Homo sapiens: one gene and its partners. The protein of the gene in region 7 purifies or fractionates together with the protein of the main gene of each other region. This does not show direct contact. Each region holds a gene or a part of one and is shown on either strand. Other genes may lie near its edges. The genes, in order: NPEPPS, ACAT1, MYL9, OSBPL8, PGD, ME2 and MYLK.

Region 1 (4,004 bases), on a different chromosome or scaffold from region 7:
CCTGTTGGAATTCACTATTGTGTCATCTTTGTGTTGCCATCTAGCCTGAAAAGAATTTCTGGAAAAAAAGTGTTTTGAAAAGTTCATGCTACTTAAAAAATTTATTTATTTTTTATTTATTTCCTTGCATCAAATTAACAAGTCCCTGCTAATATCTAGTATATTACCATATGCTCACTCAATGGCACAAACCAGTCTTCCACAAAAGTAGAAAAGAGGTAAGGAGAAACATGTCACTGCTTGTTGTTCTATCCCGATACTTAAATCAAACTCACTTCTTTAATAAGTAATCATTTAAAAATCTGTACTTTTTTCTAGACTTTTCCCAAAATATGTTTGCCTCCAAAAATTATGAATCCATTTTGGCAACTAATAGGGTAAAGAAACAAATGTTTTTTTTAATGTTAGTCTTTTCACATAATGCGAACTCATTCATCACTAGGTTCTCTTTCCCAAAGGTTTGCCAAGTCACAAGACACACTACTGTTTACAATCCCTCCCATCTGCCCCTTGCCAATATATATCAAACACTCTAGTCACTTGGCTTAAGCCACAGTTTCCCAAATAACCTTCTCAAATTCTAATTTAGACCCAAGATGCATTCGTTCTGATTCATATTCTTAATGGAAAAATTTTAAATCACCTGATTTTCACTAAGTTCTGCCTTTTGATGCTGCCAAATCCTAGAGCCCTCTTGCTTTCACACCAGTGCTCCAAATGTGACAGCTATAGTTATCTATCACAGATAAGTATAGATAACTATACTTTTAAATTCTGTACTTTTAGACATATTTTTAATCTGAGTACCGTACCCTCTTGGTTTTTCAAAGACAACTACCAACATTCAATTCATTCGAGCACCAGTCTTCACTTCATTTCATTACTATATACACCATGTTCTTTAAGGTGGGAGCCTACTGATTTCCCCCGACCCCAGACTGCAGTAGGAAGAGAAATGAAACAAAATATATTTACTAACATTCTATTTACAGATAACTATCAAACAGTTCCCATTTTTATTACAGGCTTCCTATTACATAGTATCATAAATGCCTATTGTGCAGGATGTTTGTCGGGCATCTATACTGATGGTCTCCAAAATCAAACAATACTTCAGATAATGCTGCGGGAGGAGGGAGTGGAGTATGATTCACCAAAAACTGCAGTGAAGAGTAATGGAATATTTTCACCGGTGGTATGTTATAACTAATAGCTTCTTTCTTTCCTTTTTTTTTTTTTTTTTTTTTTTGAGACGGAGTCTCACTCTGTCGCCCAGGCTGGAATGCAGGAATGCAGTGGCGCGATCTCGACTCTGCAACCTCTGCCCCCCGGGTTCAAGTGATTCTCCTGCCTTAGCCCCCGAGTAGCTGAGATTACAGGGGCCCGCCACCACGCCCCGCTAATTTTTGTATTTTTAGTAGAGACGGGGGTTTCACCATGTTGGTCAGGCTGGTCCCGAACTCCTGACCTCAAGTGCGCCCGCCTCAGCCTCCCAAAGTGCTGGGATTACAGGCATGAGCCACCGCGCCCAGCCAGCTTCTTGGGAGAGGAAGGTACTGCTAAGCAACCATCACGGTAGCAATAAATCCACCAGCTTCGAAGGCCGCAAAGCTAGGAAGATAGGTGGAAAAGCGGAGATGGGGTCCTCCCGCAGCTTCTCTGGAGGTTAAGAGAGAACAAAGTCACTGCTGCACTGTCACTTGAGGGAAAGGGGGAGGGGGCGGATCATCTTGGAAACCCAGCCCCTGGGCTGGAGCAGGCGGGGAGAAGTCAGCGAGGCTGCCTGGGATTAACATTCTCGTTCTCACCCTCTCCCCCCCCTTCTAGAAGCTCCCCTCGTCGCTCCAACGCGGCGGCCAGAGTCCCAAATGACCACCCCCTCCAATCTATCACCCGAGAGGTGTAGAGAGAAACCAAAGAAAGAACTGAGTCAGGTGGTTGAGGCAGAGCGGGGACTCCCATGACCTCTCCGTCCTCCCCCAACACCCTCCAGCCTCCCCCGGAACACTATCAAGCCCAGAAGGGTCCGGGGCGGGGGGGAAAGCCCCACACAGGTGTGCTCGCCGGGGAGGGGCGCAATGGCCGGGCCGCCGGCTCCCCAGAGCTCCCGCAGCGCGGCCCCAGCCCGAGCCCCAGCCTCAGCTCCGGCCACGGTCCCTGCCCCGGCCCCAGCCCCAGCCCCAGCCCCAGCCCCAACAGAGCAAGGCAGAGCACGCCGAACCCGGCGCCCTGCGGCCGCCCAGCCCCGACCCGAGGCCCGCCCGCCCTCCCGGCCGGGCCCTGAGTCCAGCCCGCGGGCGCGGCCTAACTGCTCGCCCCGCAGCTTGCCCCGGGGCCCGAGGGTCGCTGTACCTGGGCGGCGGCCTCCAGCTTGCCCTCGAAGGTGAAGTCCAGCAAGTCGGGCTTGAGGCAAAGGCTGTAGTTGATGGGGGAGACATCGGCAGGCAGCCGCTCGAAGGGCCTCTTCTCCGGCATCGCGGCGAGGCCCAGGCTGTGGAGGCGGCGGCGAGAGGAGCGGCTGAAGACGAGAAGGAGGAGGGGAGGAGGCGGAGGGCCGAGGAAGAGCAGGCGGCGAGCGAGGGAGGGGGCGGCAGCTGCCAGCCACATCCACCGAGCGCGGGCGACCGCCGGAGGAGAGCGACCGGGGGAGCCTGGGGGGCGGGGGAGAGACCCAGCCGGAGCGCTAGGGGCTGGGAAGGAGGCGGTGCGGGCGGACTGGCGGGCGGGCTGCCTACGGGGAAGGGGGCGGAGGGGAGGGAAGGGGAGGAGGGCCCGCAAGGAGGGAGGGAGAGGGGGAAGTGGTGGCGGCGGCTGCGTGCGCGGCCCCGCCGGCCGGGCGCGCCCCCGTGGAGTGCGCGCGCACGCCTGGGCAGAGGGCGGAGCGGCGAGGACGAGGGCGCGGCCGGCGGGGCGGGAGGGCGTCGGGTTGCTCGCGCGAGCGCAGGGCTGGAGGCGGGCGCTGCACCTGTCGGCGCCGCTCAGGACTGGGGGCGGCCTTCCAACTGGAAGGAGCCGGGAAGGGCTTGATCAGAGGAAGGAAAGGCATAAGGGGCCCTCGGGAAATTGAAGCCTACGCAGTTGGTCAGTTCAGCCAGGGTCGCATGCATAAAATACCAGTTACAAGCAAAACCCCAAACTGGATTCTGCCTCCAGGTCAGCGAAAAGCCCTGACTTGAGGCTCTCTGGCCTTAGTTCCTGTTAAGTAGCAAATTCAAAGGATGATTTGAAAGTTTTGTTATAAAACCTTTAATAGCCGGGCGCAGTGTCTCACGCCTGTAATCCCAGCACTTCGGGAGGCCGAGGCGGGCGGATCACGAGGTCAAGGAGATCGAGACCATCCTGGCTAACATGGTGAAACCCCGTCTCTACTAAAAGTACAAAAAATTAGCCGGGCGTGGTGGCGGGCGCCTGTAGTCCCAGCTACTCAGGAGGCTGAGGCAGGAGAATGGCGTGAACCCGGGAGGCGGAGCTTGCAGTGAGCCGAGATCACACCACTGCACTCCAGCCTGGGCGACAGAGCAAGACTCCGTCTCAAAAAAAAAAAAAAAAAAAAAAACCTTTAATAATCTAGGTTACTTCAACCAATGAGATTTGGACTTTTGAGGGAGTGATTTCAAAAACTGTATTTTTGTTTCCATGATTTAATGTTTAAAATGGGATGTTTCGGGCGGTCGCGGTGGCTCACGCCTGTAATCCCAGCAATTTGGGAGGCCGAGGCGGGCGGATCACAAGGTTAGGAGTTCAAGACCAGCCTGGCCAATATGGTGAAACCCCGTCTCTACTAAAAATACAAAAAAAAAAAAAATAGCCGGGCTTGGTGGCGGGCGCCTGTTGTCCCAGCTATTCGGGAGGCTGAGGTAGGAGAATCGCTTGAACCCTGGAGGTGGAGGTTGCAGTGAGCCGAGATTGCGCCACTGCACTCCAGCCTGGGCGACAGAGTGAGACTCTGTCTCAAAATAAATAAATAAATAAATAAATAAATAAATAAAATGGGATGTTTCACC
Region 2 (3,500 bases), on a different chromosome or scaffold from region 7:
AAATTAGCTGGGTGTGGTGGTGGGCACTTCTAATCCCAGCTACTCGGGAGGCCAAGGCAGGAGGATTGCTTGAACCTGGGAGGCAGAGGTTGCTGTGAGCTGAGATTGTGCCACTGCACTCCAGCCTGGGGGGCAGAGCAAGACTCCTCAAAAGAAAAAAAAAAAAAGTAGAGGCGGAGATTGCAGTGAGCTGAGATCGTGCCACTGCACTCCAGCCTGGGTGACAGCAAGGCTCTGTCTCAAAAGTTCACAACCAGACATTAATAAGAATACCAGAAATCTGGCTGGGCACGGTGGCTCACCCCTGTAATCCCAGCACTCTGGGAGGCCAAAGCGGGCTGATCACGAGGTCAGGAAATCGAGACCATCCTGGCTAACAGTGAAACCCCATCTCTACTAAAAATACAAAAATTAGCCGGGTTTGGTGGCACACGCCTGTAGTCCCAGCTACTCGGGAGGCTGAGGCAAGAGAATGGCGTGAACCTGGGAGGCAGAGCTTGCAGTGAGCCAAGATCGCACCACTGCACTTCAGCCTGGGTGACAAAGCAAGACTCTGTCTTTAAAAAAAAAATACCAGAAATCTTTCATGTAAAACCATCTTCTGAAATTCTTAAATTTTCTTTTAGACAGGTCTCGCTGTTGCCCAGGCTGGAGTGCAGTGGCACGATCTCAGCTCACTGCAATCTCTGCCTTTTGGGCTCAAGTGATCCTCCCACCTCAGCCTCCCAAGTAGCTGGGACTACAGGCATGCACCATCACACCCAGCTAATTTTTGTATAATATTTTTAGTAGAGATGGGGTTTCACTATATCACCCAGGCCGGTCTCAAACTCCCAGACTCAAGCGATCCGCCCACCTCAGCCTCCCAAAGTGCTCGGATTACAGGTGTGAGCCACCATGACTGGCCTGAAATTCTTAACTTCTAACCCTTCATTTCATTCATGCTGCTAAAAATTTAATGTGCTCTAGAAGATTAGAAGTAATCTCAGTTCATGAAAATAATCATACTTCCTTGACTGAGATCCTCATCATCTCTTCCTGGACAGCTGAGATAATTTTCCACTTGATCTTCTGACATGCAGCCTTTCCACCAAAGCATCATCAACACTCATCTGACTCATTTTGGCTAGAATGTAAGTCTGATCATTTCGCACCTTAGATAACTCAGCATAATATATAAAGCCTTTACAGTATCCCTTCTCTCCCCTTTTTCAGTCTCACAGCCTAACCTATACCTCAGGTCACATGGAACTAGTTAAAGCTCTCCAGAGACACCATGCACATTTCACACACATACCTCTGCACTTTCCCCATCCACCAACATGTAAAACACCTACATTTCTCTTAAAACTAATCAGAACACTACTTCATGTCTGCCTTGACCATTTATTTCTATCCTTTCTTGAAACAGTTTCTCCTCCTTTGTGTTCCCCAATTACTATGCAATGCTTTTAATATTATTATATGTTTACATGTCAAGTCTTCCCACTAGACTATGCTCCTTTGAGGCCAGACACCCTGTCATATTTTTACATCCTTGGCAACTGGCATATATAAGTTTAATAAATATTAATCAACTTGTTACTACTTTACAAGTCAACAAAAAAAAATCACTTGCATTATAAGGGCTAGTTAAAAACAGTTTAATATAAAACATTAATGTAAACATAAAGCCAATAATATCTTCTTACAGTCTTTAATCAGGCATACAGACAAGCAAGCTCTATACCAAAGAAACATAAATATTTTGCCTATTCCGAAATAGAGAAATTCTTAATCAGTTCTCATCTAAGTTTTATTCACTTGTACTTTTTACTGGGGGTGATGGCAATAATAAGTGACAGAAAATAAGGTATCAATTCTTCATTATAAAGTAAAACTGACTGTTTTCTAAGGTCATAAATATTCAAAACAAAGCACTTCCAAGAATGCCTATAAGTCACTGTATATATCCACAAATGAATAAAATAATATTAAATGAAAGTATTTCAATATAGTACAAATGGCATTTGCTAGAGAACCACAATACTTCAATTAAGACAAAACTTTCCATGACAAACAGTTCTGAAACTAAATCTGGTGACCGTTTTTCACCTACCAGTTTGACAAGGGTTTGGTACCACCCAGTGGTGGTGCAGATCCAGACAAGTCACACAATTTTTGGAAAGTCTAACTGGTACAACTTTTATGGAAAGCATTTGCAAATACCAAAATGTTCAAATCCTGACTCAGCATTTCTTTTAGGCATTTTTCCAACAGAGACCTGCACATGTACAGATTTTTTTAAATGTTTTGTTCACCACTCTATTTCCAATGACTGTCACATGGCAGATGCTCAGCCCTGTAACTCTGTGGCTGTCTCAGACACACTGAAAAAAATCTTCATCTGAAAAATGAAGGGCTCAGATCTGAGAGAATCTTGATTCTTCTGTGTGTCCAGGTCTCACCTCCTGACATGACAGCATATTTTTGCTAAGGAGCCTGTCTCTTGCTTGATCTCAAGTAAAGACAAGATATAGATCAGCAAGGCTAATTAGAAAGCCTGTAGAACTTAACTTAATGACTACAAATTAGTCATCAAGCCTGGGCTCAAGCAATGATTTGATTCCCAGGGTTAAGCACCGTGTTCTCCTTTATAATGAAAACCTGTCTTATTCTGGCAAATACAGTATTTATGAATTTTTAGTCACCCAGCCTCAGAGAAAGACCCAAATGCCTTGACTAAAAACAATTTTTTTTTTTTGAGAGTCTTGCTCTATCTCCCAGGTTGGAGTGCAGTGGTACAATCTCAGCTCACTGCAATCTCTGCCTCCCAGATGCAAGTGACTCTTGTGCCTCAGCTTCCCGAGTAGCTGGAATTACAGGCACCTGCCACCACGCCCAGCTAATTTTTGTATTTTTAGTAGAGACGGGGTTTCACCATGTGATCTGCCCCCAGCCTCAGCCTCCCAAAGTGCTGGGATTATAGGAGTGAGCCACTGTGCCTGGGCCTAAAAACAACTTTGTAACACAAGACACTTAGGCTTTTTTTTTTTTCAAAGAGCAGAGTCTCGCTTGCTATGTTGCCTACGCTGGTCTCAAACTCCTGGGATCCTCCTGCCTCGACCTTCCAAAGTGCTTACAGACATGATACCCAGCCTACGCTATCATTTTGACCATACTTCAAATGGACTTAGCAAATCCAGACACTCTTGAGCATGTGAGAAAACATACTAACTTATGAGAAAGAATCTCATTTCTAAAATATGAATATGCCTAGATTTTTGTGTCTTTTAGCCCTAGGTATTACTCTGATTAATAAATGGGAAGGACGGTGTTTCTTACCTGATGTCCACACATAAGACTTTGAGAGGCCATCATGATGGCTTTCATTCCTGAAGCACAAACTTTGTTTATGGTGGTACATGGAGTAGAAATAGGTAAGCCTAAAACCAATATAAGTCACTTTTGAAAAACCGATACTCAAACACAACTGCAGAACTTAATAGAGCATGTTACTA
Region 3 (3,500 bases), on a different chromosome or scaffold from region 7:
CCTAAGTGTTTTACCCAAACAGTCACAGCCAAAATAGCTGATTCCATGCCCGGCACTGTTCCAGGAGCTCTCGGGCACTGAGTCAGTTAATCCCTACTGCTGGGCACTCCTCATGTCTCCAGTCCCAGATGAAGACTCTCGGGCTCAGAGAGGTAGAGGAAGTTGTTCAGAATCACACAGCCACACTTGTCTGCTTTTGTGAAGAACTGGGTGGTGGGAGCCCCAAATCCGTGGGCAGCCTTGAATGCCAGGCCGAAGTGCTAAAAGCCAGTCTGGGGGAGGCAGGAAGATTCCCTGGCCCAGAGTCACAGGGCCACCCAACCCCCACCCCTTCCTGCAGGGAAGCCCCACCCACCAGAAGCCAAGATGTCCAGCAAGCGGGCCAAAGCCAAGACCACCAAGAAGCGGCCACAGCGGGCCACATCCAATGTCTTCGCAATGTTTGACCAGTCCCAGATCCAGGAGTTTAAGGAGGCTTTCAACATGATTGACCAGAACCGTGATGGCTTCATTGACAAGGAGGACCTGCACGACATGCTGGCCTCGCTGGGTGAGCTGGGACAGGGACAGGGGTGAGATGGATGAGGCCAGGCAGGCTCTGCCAATCATTTACAGGGCACCTCCTGTGTAGTGAGACGCGTGGTGTCCACCTTAGAGAATAGTTGCCATTAACTTAGTCCATTCAACAGGGAAACTGGGCCGGGCGCGGTGGCTCACGCCTGTAATCCCAGCACTTTGGGAGGCCAAGGCGGGCGGATCAATAGGTCAGGAGATCGAGACCATCCTGGCTAACACGGTGAAACCCTGACTCTACTAAAAATACCAAAAATTAGCCGAGCGTGGTGGCGGGCGCCTGTAGTCCCAGCTACTTGGGAGGCTGAGGCAGGAGAATGGCGTGAACCCGGAAAGCGGAGGTTGCAGTGAGCCGAGATCGCCCCACTGCACTCCAGCCTGGGCAACAGAGCGAGACTCCATCTCAAAAAAAAAAAAAAAAACAGGGAAACTGAAGCACAAAGCAGGTCCACCACAGGGTCTGAACGTAGACAGGCTGACTCCACAGTGGGCCTGTCTTAGGCAGATTTGTGCACTGGGCTGCCAGGTATCATTTCATTTAAAGAAAGGGGTCAGCTGGCCAGGCGCTGTGGCTCACGCCTGTAATCCCAGCATTTTGGGAGGCCAAGGCGGGCGGATCACGAGGTCAGAAGATCGAGATCATCCTGGCTAACATGGTGAAACCCCGTCTCTACTAAAAATACAAAAATTAGCTGGGCGTGGTGGCGGGCGCCAGCTACTCGGGAGGCTGAGGCAGGAGAATGGTGTGAACCTGGGAGGCGGAGTTTGCAGTGAGCCAAGATCACGCCACTGCACTCCAGCCTGGGCGACAGAGCAAGACTCCGTCTCAAAACAGAAAGAAAGGAAAGAAAGAGGTCAGCATCTAAATGAAAGTGTGAACTGCAGGCTGCCCACTGCACAGATGGGGAAACTGAGGCCTAGAGGGGCGGCCAGACCAGCTCCCCTCCTTCAGAGGTCACCCATCTCAGGCTCTCATAGCCTCTCTGGTCCCAGTGACTTCCTCAGGATCAGGACCTTAGAACTAACAGGGTACAAAAATCAAGTCCAATTCTCTACTGCAGATGGGGAAACACAGGCCCAGAGGCAAGGCCTCCACAGACCATGCCCCAACCCACGGGCCTGCCCCAACATCCCTCCCAAAGTGCTGGCCACAGCCAGCCACTCTCAGCCCAGTTCCCGCGTACCCCTCATGCCGAGTGACAGCATCCAGACCAGACACTGCCTGGGGGAGGGAGAGTCCAGGACCAGAGGACACAGCCCCGTGACAGTCAAGCCTCGAGCTTTGAGGCCAGAGAGTCAGTCCCTGGTAGGGCCCTGTGCACTTTCCTCTTCCTGTGAAATGGGGCCATGACCCTGACATTTCCCCACGAGGCACTGAGCAGGAGAACCAGGCAAACCTGAGTGGGAGAACTGACAGCACGCTGCCCCCGGCCCTGAGCACCAAACCTCTCCCCGCTTCTGGCCAGGCTCGCTTGAAGGCTCCCTCCCCCAGGAGGTCACCTGGCAGGAAGTAAACTCCAGGGTTCTTTTTTTTTCCCCCCGAGACAAAATCTCACTCTGTTGCCCAGGCTGGAGTGGCACCATCTCGGCTCACTGCAACCTCCGTCTCCCAGGTTCAAGAGATTCTCCTGCCTCAGCCTCCCCAGTAGCTGGGATTACAGACGTGCGCCACCATGCCCGGCTAATTTTTGTATTTTTAGTAGAGACAGGGTTTCGCCATGTTGGCCAGGCTGGTCTCAAACTCCAGAGCCCATCTTGGCCTCCCAAAGTACTGGGATTACAGGTGTGAGCTACCACGCCTGGCCAACTCCAGGGTTCTTATCTGGGGCTTTCCCAGCTTCGTGGAAGGACTGAGGCCTGGTGAGAGAAGGGGCTGGCCTTAAGTACCCCAGTGTCCTGGCGTCACAGCTCCTCTTGGGCCTCAGCTTCCATGGCCATCCCAGGGGGACACAGCAGGGTATGTGAGGCTCAGGGACATGAAAACTTCCTATTTCCAAGGCCACACCCTGCACCCAGGCCCCTGAACCCCTGAGACTTCATGACAGCCCTGGGTGTCCACCCAGAAAAACATGCACTGTGTTTGTAGCTCATATCCGTGGGTCTGCAGGTGAGTCACACCCTTATCTTCAAGTTAAAAACAAGAGCAGCAAATATAATAATAAGAAGAAGCCCTGCAGGTATTATCTTAAATCTCAAAGCAATCCTATTGAACAGATACAATTATTCCCACTTTACAAACAAGGAAACTGAGGCTCAGAGAGGTTAAGTAATTTACCCAAGGTCACACAGCTACCAAGTAGTGGGGCTGCAATAGAAACCCAGCAGTTGATTCCAGTCCATAGGCCTGTGCCAGTCATTGTTATGAGCCTTTTGCAACTACTGTCTTCACAATTCCCCTAAGAGATGGGGAAAACCAAGGTGCACAGCTGGGATCCAAACCCAGGCCTGTCTGACAGCAAAGCACTGTGTCTGGACTTTGGAGTTAGGCTGCCTGGGTTCAAATGCCAGGTCTACTCAAGTCTCCTCCTTACTTGCTGTCTGACCCTGGACAAGTCACCTGGCCTCTCTGTGCCTCAGCTTCCATACCTGTGAAGTGGGTAAGAATGCTGACTTCACAGGGTGGTGAAAGTTAAATGCAATAAGGCACGTGGTCGACCAGCCACAGCGAGCAGTCTGCAGAGGGTTGTTCTTATTACACTTTAGTGAGCACTGCCGGCTGCTGACATCCAGGCCACAGGAGGAAACTGGTGGGAGCAGCCAGGGACTCCGGGCGCCCACTGCTGTGGCTGCGCTAGAGCCATGCTTTCCAGTTCACAAAACCCACTACCTCCCGTCTCACACGGAGCGGTGAAGGGCAGGGGTGGGGGACGGGGGTGCAAGTTGTCCCAGCTGGGGACAGAGGGCCCAGGACCACAGGCTGGAACACC
Region 4 (3,500 bases), on a different chromosome or scaffold from region 7:
AACAATCTAGTTTGAGTTGATACCAACTTAACTTCAGTAGTACATAAAAACTTTCCTCCTATACAGCTCCATCCTCTCTGCTTTTATGTTGTAATGAACTATATCTTTACACATTGTATGTCTGATAACAAAGATATGTAATTAAATTATTTTTCATTCATTTATTTTTTAAGTCCTGCAGGAAATAAAAAGTGGACTTACAAACTAAAATTACAATAGCACTAGCTTTTATATTTGTCCAACTATTTACTAAAAATCTTTATTTCTTCATACAGCTTTGAGTTTCATTTTATTACATATTTACCTTAGCATTTTTTTGTAGGGCAGGTCTAGTGGTAATGAACTCCCTCAGCTTTTATCTGGGAATGTCTTAATTTCTCCCCCATTTTCGAATGACAGTTTTGCCAGATACAGAATTCTTGATTGACAAGTTTTTGCTTCTACCACTTTAAATATGTCATCTCATTGCCTTCTGGCCCCCATGGTTTCTATAAGATATCGGTTGTTAATCCTATGGATGATCCCCAGTGTATGTGATAAGTTGTTTCTCTCTGCTGATTTTAAGACTCTCTTTGGCTTTTGACAGTTTGTTGTGGTGTGGGTCTCTCTGAGATCATCCTACTTGGAGTTTGTTGAGCTTCTTGAATTTGTAGATTTATATCTTCCACCAAATTTGGGGATTGGGGGGTCTTCTTTCCTTAAATATTCTTCATTCATTTTTCTGTCTTCTCTTTGTGGAACTCCCATAATGCAATGATAACCCACTTGATGGTGTCCCATGGGTCCTTTAGGCTCTGTTCACCTCACTTCATTCATTTTTCTTTCTCCTCCTCAGACTGGATAATTTTTATGGTCTTATCTCTAAGTTTCCTGATCCTGTCTTATGCTTGCTTATATCTGCTTTTGAATACCTCTAGTGAATTTTCATTTTTGTTATACTTTTCAGCTCCAGAATTTGTTTGGCTCCCTTGAATAATTTGTCTTTATTGATTTTCTCAGAGATGAGTGCCTGTGTAAGTCCTTCAGGTAGTATTCTGACAGGTTAGGACAGACATACACAATTGTGTATGAGGTCCACTCTGCTCCTTCTGGAACTAGGGACTTACACTGGCAACGCAGGGGCTCTTCAAGACTGCTACTGCACTGGGATGGACCTGGGGCAAGGGCAGGTAAAATGCCACAAAGCTTTCCTCTCTTTGCACTTTCTTGACCAGTGTTCACTTGGTTGCTGAACACCTCTGACTGTTTTCCAGAGTTCTGGCAAATTGAGTTGACAGTTTTTGCTTGTTTTCTGATGTTTCTTTGGGGTAAGAAGAGTTCAGAGCTGCGTATTTTGCTCACCCAAAATTTTAAATTTTGAAACCAAATTTTAGTTGGTTGCTATAGATACTAAAGATTTAACAGATTTATATACCTAGTGTACCTAGTTTTTTATTACATACCATTGGAGTACGATGTTTCACTTTGGTCTGAATAACACCATCTTTTTCAAACTGTATCATATCATTAAGTGGGTCCCATGGTCGGGTACTACATAAATGAAAAAAAAAAAAACCATTTGCTCAATGACTAAACAAAGAACTTTAAAACTTTCTATTCTATGATCCAATTTTATTAATAATTATATACATAGTTCTAATAATGAGATTTCCCCATACCTAATCTTCAGATCCTCAACTTATTTTATAGGCTAACTTCTATCATAGAGTCAAGCTTATAATGAATGCAAAACCAAGTTTAAAAATCTCACACTAATATACATGGTTTAATTAAATAAAAACTACTCCAGCAACAAATATTCTAGAAATAAAGGCAACAAACCATGCTAATACATTGTTTGAAATAAACTATTTTAAGTTACTTACTCTGCAAACTTGTAATGCCATTCTCCTGTGAGTGGATCAAGTTCAAATAATTTGCAAGACCACTCTTCATTTTTTGTTTTCCGATCCCTGGCAGCTTGTCTTTGAGCTTCTTCCAAAACATACTTCTCTTGGGTAGCTTCAGTTTGGTCTTTGGCATTTATGGCTCGAGTTACCCGTTGCCAGAGTCTAATACATGTGCGAAAATATTAAAAGTATTAAAAATGTAACAGAAAATAAAATCTATATAGAATAGGCCTCAAATCCCTTGTAGAGAAAATAATGCTCACATGAATTTCTGGCTTTGACAACACTTATGCTCATAGGCTTAGAAATGAGTCAAGATATAAATCCAGTCCCTTGAGTAGAGAGAGACCTGTTCATAAGTGGAGACTAATTTTTTTTACTTGGCAAGAGAAACTTACTACATAGACTCTTAAACTCATGATAGTAAGTGTTGAAGTGTTGCTGGCTCAAGATGATAGGATGTAATGAAGGTAAAGCTCAGGAATCTACGCTTTTAGCAAGCTTCCTAGATGCGTCTTACACTGTTTAAGATTCACTGGCTTCATAAAGATCCATTAATGTAATGCAGTGCTTCTGAAGTTTGGATCCATGAATTATCAGAGAATTTTTATAATCAGAATCTCTGGGGTCAGGCGCAAGTATTGATATATTTTTTAAATGTTTCCCCAAAATATTTTAATGTATTGCTAGTGTTGAGAACCACTGGTTTAACAGAAAAGACTACTGAGGTAAAATGATTTCCCCTACTAGTTCTTTCTTCTGTTAAATAAAAGTATATCTATATCCTACCCATCTAGAAAGGCAGCATGTTAAAACCAGAAAAGGCTTTGGGATCAGATAGACATGAGTCAAGTCCTAGAGCTGCCACTTCTTAGCTGGTGCACTTAAAGTTATTTATCCTAAGTCTCATTTCCTCATCTTCAAATATGCTGAATTATATACTCTCACAAATTATCATATGTATGCCTTGGCAAAGCTTATCTCTGGAAAAAGAACATCAAATGGTTATGGCTGAGACAGAATTTTTAGAACTGGTACATATACATTCTTCCATCTTTGACAACCTCAAATTTGAGTGTAGAAGGGAAGGTACACAGACTTGAATTCCCATGACAGAGAATGATATGTATGTGCAAACATGTAGGGAGGACAAAGTTGCATAATAAGTACTAAGTGCCTAGCAAAATATCTCTTATACATAAGTCTCTTTCTCTTAACACAAAGATATAACAACAATAAAATAGGGAATGTGTATACAATATTTCTGATTCAAAAATATAAGCCATCTAGCAAGAAGTTCATGACTTAAGAACAGAAATGATAGCCTTAGTTATTACCCAACTAATAAATCCTATAGAAGCCAGTCCATCCAGTAACTTTACTTTTGTATCAGAGAATGGAACAGAAGTAGATTCTGCACCACTCCCTTTACCTAGAGTTCTAATGCTTAAATCAGGTTAGAAAACTGTTGCCAGGTAGAAACTAAGAGTCATTAATTAGTCCTGTAATCTTATTTAAACAAAAACGTTCTTTCTTTCTTTTTTTTTAAGGTGCTGGAACAATTGAGAAAGAAAAAAATGAGTAGTTTTGAGCTACAGAAAAGCAAGACGA
Region 5 (2,474 bases), on a different chromosome or scaffold from region 7:
GGCACCTGTAGTCCCAGCTACTCTGGAGGCTGAGGTGGGAGAATGGTGTGAACCCGGGAGGTGGAGCTTGCAATGAGCCAAGACCACGCCACTGCACTCCAGCCTGGGTGACAGAGCGAGACTCTGTCTCAAAAAAAAGAAAAATAAATTAAAAGTTGGTGATTTAATGAAAATTGTCTCCTTCACTGACATTAGCCGAGAGGTCAGAGGTCACACTGTAGACACCAGCTGTCGAGGCACAGGCGCTGCTCGCTCCTCTTAGGCAACTCTTAGGACTTTAACACTCCAGGGAAATCATCATGAAGTCAAACCGCTGCAGGGAACAGTCACACTGGCCCCAGGCCACACAACAATATCACTGGCAGGTTTTATCTTCTCTGAGTAAGTAAGATAAAGTGAAAAGCCTAGTTTAAGGAGCCGGCTTAGCTTGTTCAAAATCCCTGGGCCTGGCTTAGAGCAAGTAGAGACAGGTGTGGGAAAGGAAATAAATCAGACCAAGCTGAGCCCATCATTAAAGTTTAATTCTCTAGAAAGTTTAGTATGAAGTATTTGACATACAAAAAGCCATAAAGAATGTCACGCACAGCTTGCCAGGAGCAAAAAAAAAAAAAAAAAAAAAAAAGACGAAAGAAAAAGCACGTTACAGTGAACGTCCATGTACCCATTGCCCAATTGGAGAAAGAAAACATGCCCAGTGTATTAAAGCCCCTGGTGTGTCCTCCCTGCCTGCCTCCTCTGAGTGAAGCATAATCCTAAATGTGGTTTCTTGTGTTATTCTAGTCTTTTTTTTTAAAGAAAAATCTTTCTGCCAATGGGGATAATGGCTCCATGTGGCCGAGGTGAGACTAAGAATCTGGAGAAAGAGCATCAGTCTGATGTAGCTTTTATTGAGTAAAGGAAAAAGGGAATTCAGCCGCATGATACAGAGGTTCCAGTTGATCAGAGTGCGCAAACACCCTTCCTGTCTGCGTGATGGGAACCGCACCAGCACACGGGGCACGCGGAAGCCACTGCCGCAAGGAGATGGTTCCCACTCTCACGCACATGAGCAGCTCCTGGTCAGTCCCAAGAGGCAAGGGCAGAGGGCATGGTGGCTCTCACAGAGCTACTTTACAAATAAACTGTGTGTCTTCCTCAGGAGTCTCTTACAACACTTTTAAAAAACTGAACAGAAAATAGGGCAAAGGGCCAGGTGGCAGTGCCATGAGGCACATGGAATGTCCTGGTCTGTGGAATCGTGGAGGGTGACAGGAGCAGCATGATCAGGCATTGTATGACGAGGATGACACGGTGCCACCATGGCCTGTCCAGTTGGTGTGGATAAACTGCCCTGGTTTGGCCAAGAGTTCATAGGTGTGAGCCCCGAAGTAATCCCGCTGAGCCTAGGAAACGAGAGAGTAGGTTGGTCAGGACAGTCCATGGCGCACGCCCCCGAGGGGCCAGCCAGGTTAATCCCTGCTCCACAGGCTTACCTGGATGAGGCTGGCTGGAAGCATCTCATGTCTGTACCCGTCATAGAAGGAGAGGGCAGTGGTAAAACAGGGCATGGGAATGCCAGCCTGGACCCCAGTGCTGACTGCCCGCCGCCAGGAGTCCTGAGCACAAAACGCACGGCCAGAGATTAGTGATCTGCCCCTGGTGACGCGGATAGATTTTCATTCATATCAATGTGGGTAAATGAAAAACTGATGGTTAGGCCAGGCGCGGTGGCTCACGCCTGTCATCCCAGCACTTTGGAAGGCTGAGGTGGGCGGATCACGAGGTCAGGAGTTCAAGACCAGTCTAGCCAACATGGTGAAACCCCATCTCTACTAAAAATACAAAAAAAAAAAAAAAATTAGCCAGGTATGTTGGCACACCTGTAGTCCCAGCTACTTAGGAAGGCTGGGGCAGGAGAATCGCTTGAACCCAGGAGGCGGAGGTTGCAGTGAGCCAAGATCATGCCACTGTACTCCAGCCTGGGTGACAGAGCGAGACTCTGTCTCAAAAAAACAAAAAACCAAAAAAAAAAAACAAAAAACCAAACATCACAACTGATGGCCCCAGGGAGGTAGAGTAACCATGGCACCAGCCCTAGGCTACATACCTGGCAGTTTTCAACAGCTGACTTAAAGAAGTCGTCCAGTAGGAGGTTCTGAAGTTCCGGGTTTCGATCAAATGCATCCTTTATCTTTCCTAGGAATACACTGAAATAATCAAGGGGGGAAAAAAGCAATGAGTCTTTTTTTTTTTTTTTTTGAGACGGAGTCCCGCTTTGTCACCAGGCTGGAGTGGAGTGGCACGATCTCAGCTCACAGCAACCTCCACCTCCCAGGTTCAAGCGATTCTCCTGCCTCAGCCTCGCCAGTAGCTGGGATTACAGGCACGCACCACTACAACCGGCTAATTTTTGTATTTTTAGTAGAGACAGGGTTTCACCGTGTTAGCCAGGATGGTCTGGATCTCCTGACCTCGTGATCCGCCTGCCTCGGCCT
Region 6 (3,500 bases), on a different chromosome or scaffold from region 7:
TGTGCCCATTTTTTATTTGTAAAAATCTTTGTTTTTCTTACAGGGACAGCTGCAGTAGCTCTAGCAGGTCTTCTTGCAGCACAAAAAGTTATTAGTAAACCAATCTCCGAACACAAAATCTTATTCCTTGGAGCAGGAGAGGTAAGTTTTGAAGGCTTTTTGAAACTTAAGCCTATCCTCTCTTATAGAATTAGAAAATGGGCAGAATATTGATGTTTATGAAAGAGCATAGTGAGCCTGTAATTTTGTTGAGGTAGAGGATATGAAATCAAGAGTTCTGCTGTAAAACATGTAATTTAAAATATGTTTCGAGAGAATATCACGAAGAATTTTTGTTTGATTTGTAAGGGAAAAATAAACCAAATATTTCTTATGGCATATAATCTTCATATATAAAGTAATTCAAGCATTGCATCGTACTCTAGTATATATTAAAATTTATGTTTTGTTGAACAGGCTGCTCTTGGAATTGCAAATCTTATAGTTATGTCTATGGTAGAAAATGGCCTGTCAGAACAAGAGGCACAAAAGAAAATCTGGATGTTTGACAAGTATGGTTTATTAGTTAAGGTAAGGTATTTAAAATTTGGAGAAGCAAAAGAGTGTATTATATTTTTAGTTGGATTTTTAAAATATTATTCCTTAAAATCTTGTTTCTCATTGGAGTCTCCAAATTATACCAATTGGGACCTTCCACTCTCTTTTCAACAGATGTCCCTAGTCTTGTTGTCTTTTACAAAGACTTCTGCTTCATATTGAATTAATAATCTCTATGTTGGCATCAGACTTACTCTTTCTTGCTTTGTTGTCTTGCTCTTAAGAGATCAAATGGCCATTGTACAAGTATGATCGTGTTTGACACTCCTAAAACTAGGTTTTTAGTAGGAACTGAGAACTTCCTAATTAAATTGCAGTATTGCAGTAGTTTTGATATTTGAGCAGAAATTCTTTTAATTTTATTATTATTTATTTTTTTTGAGATGAAGTCTCTCTCTGTCACCCAGGCTGGAGTGCAGTGGTGCGATGTCACCTCGCTGCAACTTCTGCCTCCTGGGTTCAAGCAATTCTCCTGCCTGAGCCTCCCGAGGCTACCGTGCCTGGCCGTGAGCAGAAATTCTTAACCCTTTGGAGATCATAATCCCCTGAAGAAATCTAATAAAAATCTGTGGACCCTATCCCCAGGAAAAAAGCATGTGCTCCTGAAACCAATTTATGGATAATAAAGAGCTTATCTCCCAGATTAACTTAGTACCTTTGGGCCTGACTACCTTTGTTAGCATTGATTACCATTTTCACTAGCTTAAGAATGTCATATATCTTCTGTGTAACACATTGAATATAAGTAAACTGTTCCATAGTTAAACCAATCCAGTACACAATGCTGTTATATTTTTGTATGTACACATTAAAATATAATGGTATAGCTGTCGCTTGGCATTTATGTCTGTGGAGCAAGCTATCTAAATGTACTTTGTTCCAGTTCTAAAATCTTTTCTTGTTAATTAGAACCAGTATTCTATTAGTACAAAAAATAAAATGAAAAGTTAAAGTATGTGAATGAAAAATCTTGAGTGCTCAAACTACATGTAATTTAAAATGTAATAGTAGTTATATACCAGACATTGTTATAAGACTTTACATGTATTATCTCCTTTAATCATCTCAAAAAATCCTGTGAAGTTTTACAAATGAAGAAACAGTTTAAAAGGTCGAGGGAGTTTTCCAAAGTCATCAGCTTATAAGTGACGGAGGTAGGATTCAAAACCAAGTATCCTGACTGCGAAGCCTGTGCTCTGAATAATTAAACTGTGCTGCCTCCCAAAGAGGCTGTAACTACCATATTTACTAGTATGTAAGGCACAAGGATAAAACATCACATATTTAGAAGGCTATTGGGGGATGTATGTTTTGACTAGTACACAGTTAGTTTGGTACTTCTTTTTGTAATGTTGGTTTTCATCAAATATGTTGTGATTCTTTAGCATATTGGTAGGTCAGGTCTAACACAGTATTGGTAGCTACAATGTGTTTACTTAGCACAAAGTGAGAACCCTGTCCATCTCCATATTCATCATCAGATTATATATTTCTTTTCCAGTGTGCAGGTAGCTTGGCCTATGGGCATTAGGCTTCCAGTGTCTCCTGGTGATCCTAAACACTGCCCTTCATTTTGAAACTTTGAAAACAGTGGCTTCTTATGTCACTGTTTGCTCAGCCTGGTTTTCTCAGCCGATTGATGATAGTGTCCTGCTTTACTAACCCCTGCAGTTTCTTATCTGGAGTTATCTTGGAGTTCTGATGGAAATACACTTTTTCAGAAGTCTTCTTTTTTACCAAAATAAGAATATGAGTTCTCAGTTGGTTTTTGCATTCAGTATGTTTTTGTCTGCCTTAAATCTTTGAGAAATTCTTCATTGTTCTAGTCTGTCAGTGGTATCTCTTCTGGCTTTGTGGCATTACTACAAATTTAACTTTTATGGTTTTTGACCTGGGATTTGGAAAGGAAAGCATGTTTCTTCATTCAGCCATCTTTAACCAGAATTCCCTGTTCCTCTTGTTTCTGAACTCTTGGTAGTGCAAGTCCATGGTGTCTGTCTGCAATTCTGAAATCCTAAAGGCTTTGAAATTCCAAAATTTTTTCCAAAATTTATTTTTGTGACCAATCTGATTGCCTTGAATTTACCTAGAAGCGAAACCTGACTCAAACTAATAAGAAGCTCTTTGTAATCTTAACCTTTTGTACTTGATGTGACTATTCATAAGTTTGTTCAGTTGTGGAGTATCTGTTGGGAGGGAGAATATGTAATATTTGATATACGCCATATTGTATTTCTAAAATATGAAAAATTCTCAGCCAGGAGTGGTGGCTCATGCATGTGGTGGCTCAGCTTCCCACTTTGGGAAGCTGAGGTGGACGGATCACTTGAGCCCAGGAGTTTGAGACCAGCCTGGGCAAGATGGCAAAACCCCATCTCTACAAAAAAATCATCCGGGCATGGTGGTGTGTGCCCATAGTTCCAGCTACTCTGGAGGCTGAGGTGGGAGGATCACCTGAGCCCGGGGAGGTAGAGGCTGCCACTGCACTCAAGTCTGGGCGACAGAGTGATACCCCATTTCAAAATAAATAAATCAAATTAAATTAAATATGAAAATTTCTTAATTCCAAAACTCATCTACCCCAGATAAAGGACTGTAGGCTTTTGTGCCACATTGGACTTAGGAAGACCTCATAGTGTAAATGCATTTTTGAGAGGAACTAGAAAGTTTCTAGGAATAATGGTAGATTTGATTTTTGTTTTATATTTGAGTTTATGGACATGATGAAGATAGAGTTGGAAGGTATGGGTTGAAGAGGAAAGTAAATGAAAATGAAAAGACATTTCTATTGTAGAAACAATGTGTAACTCATAATGATGTCTTTTTATTTCATCTTTAATATGCATTGACTAAAAAAATACTGTATTTTATCTCAAAATTTAGGGACGGAAAGCAAAAATAGA
Region 7 (3,500 bases):
TTGAACTCCCTCATTAGAGAAATGCCTTTGGGAGTTATCAAAAAAGGATATAGGCTTTCATGCCAGGTCAGTTTGGGTTAGAAATATGCTCTCTTTTACAAGGCATGTGAACTTGGACAAGTCATTTAACCTTACTAAAGATCAGTATTCTTATCTAGGAAATGGGTATGATTTTCTTGTAAGATTGTTGGGATAACTAAATGAAACAATTCAGGTAGAGCATTTAGCACAAAACCCAGCATAGCACATCCTCAGTGAGTGTTAGCTGTTATTATCAAGTAGAAGCTGTGCATAGAGACTCTACTTGAGGCAAATATAGTCTAGGGATGAAAGAGAGTGGAGGGATAGAGTAGGAGCTGCAGGGGCTCTCAAGTGGAAGGAAGATTTTCTTTCCTTTTTCAGCATAGGGACAACTACAGCATGCTTGTAGGGAGAAAAAAGAGGTCTCTCAATAAGGGAAGGGGAAAGATTGAAGAAGTGGTGAGAGAGTAAATCATTGTTAGATCAGATCCTTGTGAAGATGGGAAGGGACAGAAAGAGAAGTCTTGGGAAGGGAAACAGACAGGTATTCTGTAGTATAGGAAAACAGAAAGAGAGAAGTATGTAGGAGGAGCTAAAAGAACACCCATCAGATGACCTGCTTCATGGTAAACTCATCTGCCAAGAATTAGCTAGGATGTTTAGGAACTGGAGAAGTTTTAGAAAAGCGAGTGTCTTCATCAAGAAGATAGGATGTGGAATGGCAAAGTAAAGACCTCTGAAGATCTACTCCTCCATAAAAGCAACAACAATACTGGCAAAAAGAGTCAAAAGCAACGGTTTCAGAATGCCAGAAATTAACCACAGGCTTGCAACATTCTGAGGAGCATTCAATAAAAACAAACAAACATCCAGGAGTGGTGGCTCAAGTCTTTAATCTCAGCACTTTGGTAGGCCAAGGCAGAAGGACTGCTTGAGCCAGAAGTTTGAAACCAGCCTGGGAAACATAGCAAGACTCTTGTCTCTACCAAAAAAAATAAAATTAAAATATTAGCCAGGCATGATGGCATGTGCCTGTAGTCTCACTTAGTAGGCTGAGGCAGGAGGATTGCTTGAGCCCAAGAGTTTGAGGCTGTAGCAAGCTATGATCACGCCATTGCACTCCAGTCTGGGTGACAGAGCGAGACTCTGTCTCTAAAAAGTAAAAACAATAAACAACAACAAAAAACCCCAAACAACAATACCCTGCCCCTCCACCCTCCCAAACAACAAACAACAACAACAACAACAACAACAACAATAAAACATAGCTGAATCTTGGTAAGAACAGCAAGCTATGTGCTTTTTCACTCTTGTGCCCCTTGCCCCAGCTCTGGGGTAACTCTGAAAACCGACAGTACCTATGGTACTTGTGAAAATCAGCCACTTAGCAAGGGGCAGGATGGGTTCAGAGCTCCTGAAAAACCCCATGCGTAAGAGAATGGTCACTATTTGCCCTGTCTGGCAGCTCCTTCAACGACTCCATTTTCCGGGTTGTCTTTGTTTAATCCGACTCAAAGTTTACTCTGTGTGGATGGCCCTGTCTCCAGGATGTTTGTTAAAATCAATCAGTAGCAATTGTTTAACATTATAGCTACTTGAGACAGCAATATCATTCGGAGCTAACAAGAGCCTGACCAAAAAACTTCAAAGGAAAAACTGGGGAATGAGATGTCCAGGACTTTGAAAAGCTCTGACAGATTCCTGAGAACTGAGGAGCCCAAATGGTTGTGCAGGGCTGTGAGCCTGCCCAGGAAAGATGTAAGAAGGCCCTCCTGTCTCACCTCTGGCTGACTTGGAGCTTTGGTGCAAGCAGAAAGTAAAGGCTAAAGCAGAGCTGTAAACTGCTGGCCGGAGCACTGAAGATGGGCGTAACACACACACAGAGCCCCTTGGCAAAGGCTGGGAAAAGTATTAGTTCAAGGCATTTAAGGAACTCTCCATCCAATCAATTAGGTGATCACTAAACTAACTAAGCAGGGACTTCTGTGGCCGCACATGACAAATAATCCAGCCTTTACAGAATGGGAGAGGATTATTGTAAATCATGTCTGGTAAATGACTTGTATCCAGAATACATAAAGAACTCTTGCAACTCAACAATAAAAAAGTAAATGATGCAATTAAAACATGGGTAAAGTATTTGAATAGGCATTTCTCTGAAGGAGATATACAAATGTCCAATAAGTATATGAAATGATGCTCAAAATCACTAGTCATCAGAGAAATGCAAATCAAAATTGCAGTCAGGCTGGGTGTGGCAGCTCATGCCTGTAAACCCAGCACTTTAGGAGGCTAAAGTGGGAGGACTGTTTGAGCAAGGAGTTCAAGTCCAGCCTGGGCAACATAGTAAGACCTTTTATCTACAAAAATAAACAAAATTAGCTGGGTATAGTGGCATATGCCTGTGGTCCCAGCTACCCAGGAGGCTGAGGTGGGAAGGATCACTTGAGGCTGGGATGTTGAGGCAGCAATGAGCTATTATCACGCCACTGCACTCCAGCCTGGGCAACAGAGTGAGACCCTGTTTCAAAAAAAAAAAAAAAATCATAGTCAGATGATTGTGAATGGCTATAATGAAAAAATAGAAAACAGGCTGAGTGCAGTGGCTCATGCTTATAATCCCAGTGCTTTGGGAGGTTGAAGTGGGAGGATCACTCAAGTCTAGGGGTTTGAGACCAGCCTGGGCAACATAGTGAGACCTCCATCTCTACAAATAATAAAAAAAATTAGCCGAGTGTGGTGGCAAGCACCTTTAGTCCCACCTACTCAGGAGGCGAGGCAGGAGGATTGCTTGAGCCCAGGAGTTCAAGGTTACAGTGAGCTATTATCATGCCACTGCACTCTAGCCCCATTGGCAAAGCAAGACCTCATTTTTTAAAAAAAGCAAGAAACCAAGCAAGCAAGCAAGAAAATAACAAGTATTGGTGAGAATGTGGAAAAACTGCAACACTTGTACATTGCTAGAAGAATGTAAAATGGTGAAAAACAGTTTGTTAGTTCCTCAGAGGGTTAAATCCAGAATTACCTTATGACCCAACAATATATGTGGTCTAAACATCAAAATTGAAAACAGGTATTGAAAACAACTCATACATAAATGTGCATAGCAACACTTTTCACCATAGCTAAAAAGTAGAAACAACCACATGGACCTTAAGTGATGCGTGGATAAACAAAACACTGTATGCTATACCCATACAATGCAATATGATTCAGCCACATGGATGAATGAAGTACTAACACCTGCTACAACACAGATGAACCCTGAAAACATTAAGCTAAGAGAAAGAAGCCAGACACAAAAGGCCACATATTGAATGATTCCATTTAACATCAAATGTTCAGAAGAGGAAAACCCATAGAGACAAAAAGTATATTAGTGGCTATCAGGGGTTGTGGGGATGGGAGAACAGGGAGTGACAGCTAATGGGTAGGATTTTTTTGGGAGGGGTAGTGAAAATGTTCTGAAATCAGATGAT

Evidence for each region.
Region 1: the proteins of MYLK (region 7) and NPEPPS purify together in Homo sapiens (affinity purification with mass spectrometry; one large-scale study listed by BioGRID and IntAct). This does not show direct contact.
Region 2: the proteins of MYLK (region 7) and ACAT1 purify together in Homo sapiens (affinity purification with mass spectrometry; one large-scale study listed by BioGRID and IntAct). This does not show direct contact.
Region 3: the proteins of MYLK (region 7) and MYL9 purify together in Homo sapiens (affinity purification with mass spectrometry, with the first as the bait; one large-scale study listed by BioGRID). This does not show direct contact.
Region 4: the proteins of MYLK (region 7) and OSBPL8 purify together in Homo sapiens (affinity purification with mass spectrometry; one large-scale study listed by BioGRID and IntAct). This does not show direct contact.
Region 5: the proteins of MYLK (region 7) and PGD purify together in Homo sapiens (affinity purification with mass spectrometry; one large-scale study listed by BioGRID and IntAct). This does not show direct contact.
Region 6: the proteins of MYLK (region 7) and ME2 purify together in Homo sapiens (affinity purification with mass spectrometry; one large-scale study listed by BioGRID and IntAct). This does not show direct contact.

What each region holds. Positions count from the first base shown.
Region 1 is NC_000017.11:47,529,904-47,533,907, reverse strand, and holds the start of NPEPPS (puromycin-sensitive aminopeptidase), read right to left. Parts: upstream 2,801-4,004; 5' UTR 2,608-2,800; coding exon 2,353-2,607; intron 1-2,352. UniProt on the Homo sapiens protein: Aminopeptidase with broad substrate specificity for several peptides. Involved in proteolytic events essential for cell growth and viability. May act as regulator of neuropeptide activity.
Region 2 is NC_000011.10:108,135,067-108,138,566, reverse strand, and holds part of ACAT1 (acetyl-CoA acetyltransferase, mitochondrial isoform b precursor), read right to left. Parts: intron 3,426-3,500; coding exon 3,325-3,425; intron 1-3,324. UniProt on the Homo sapiens protein: This is one of the enzymes that catalyzes the last step of the mitochondrial beta-oxidation pathway, an aerobic process breaking down fatty acids into acetyl-CoA.
Region 3 is NC_000020.11:36,544,519-36,548,018, forward strand, and holds part of MYL9 (myosin regulatory light polypeptide 9), read left to right. Parts: intron 1-340; 5' UTR 341-366; coding exon 367-550; intron 551-3,500. UniProt on the Homo sapiens protein: Myosin regulatory subunit that plays an important role in regulation of both smooth muscle and nonmuscle cell contractile activity via its phosphorylation. Implicated in cytokinesis, receptor capping, and cell locomotion.
Region 4 is NC_000012.12:76,367,772-76,371,271, forward strand, and holds part of OSBPL8 (oxysterol-binding protein-related protein 8), read right to left. Parts: intron 2,052-3,500; coding exon 1,866-2,051; intron 1,531-1,865; coding exon 1,443-1,530; intron 1-1,442. UniProt on the Homo sapiens protein: Lipid transporter involved in lipid countertransport between the endoplasmic reticulum and the plasma membrane: specifically exchanges phosphatidylserine with phosphatidylinositol 4-phosphate (PI4P), delivering phosphatidylserine to the plasma membrane in exchange for PI4P, which is degraded by the SAC1/SACM1L phosphatase in the endoplasmic reticulum.
Region 5 is NC_000001.11:10,418,538-10,421,011, reverse strand, and holds the end of PGD (6-phosphogluconate dehydrogenase, decarboxylating), read right to left. Parts: intron 2,187-2,474; coding exon 2,087-2,186; intron 1,596-2,086; coding exon 1,473-1,595; intron 1,383-1,472; coding exon 1,263-1,382; 3' UTR 501-1,262; downstream 1-500. UniProt on the Homo sapiens protein: Catalyzes the oxidative decarboxylation of 6-phosphogluconate to ribulose 5-phosphate and CO(2), with concomitant reduction of NADP to NADPH.
Region 6 is NC_000018.10:50,920,618-50,924,117, forward strand, and holds part of ME2 (NAD-dependent malic enzyme, mitochondrial isoform 1 precursor), read left to right. Parts: intron 1-43; coding exon 44-141; intron 142-456; coding exon 457-570; intron 571-3,480; coding exon 3,481-3,500.
Region 7 is NC_000003.12:123,727,333-123,730,832, forward strand, and holds part of MYLK (myosin light chain kinase, smooth muscle), read right to left. Parts: intron 1-3,500. UniProt on the Homo sapiens protein: Calcium/calmodulin-dependent myosin light chain kinase implicated in smooth muscle contraction via phosphorylation of myosin light chains (MLC). Also regulates actin-myosin interaction through a non-kinase activity.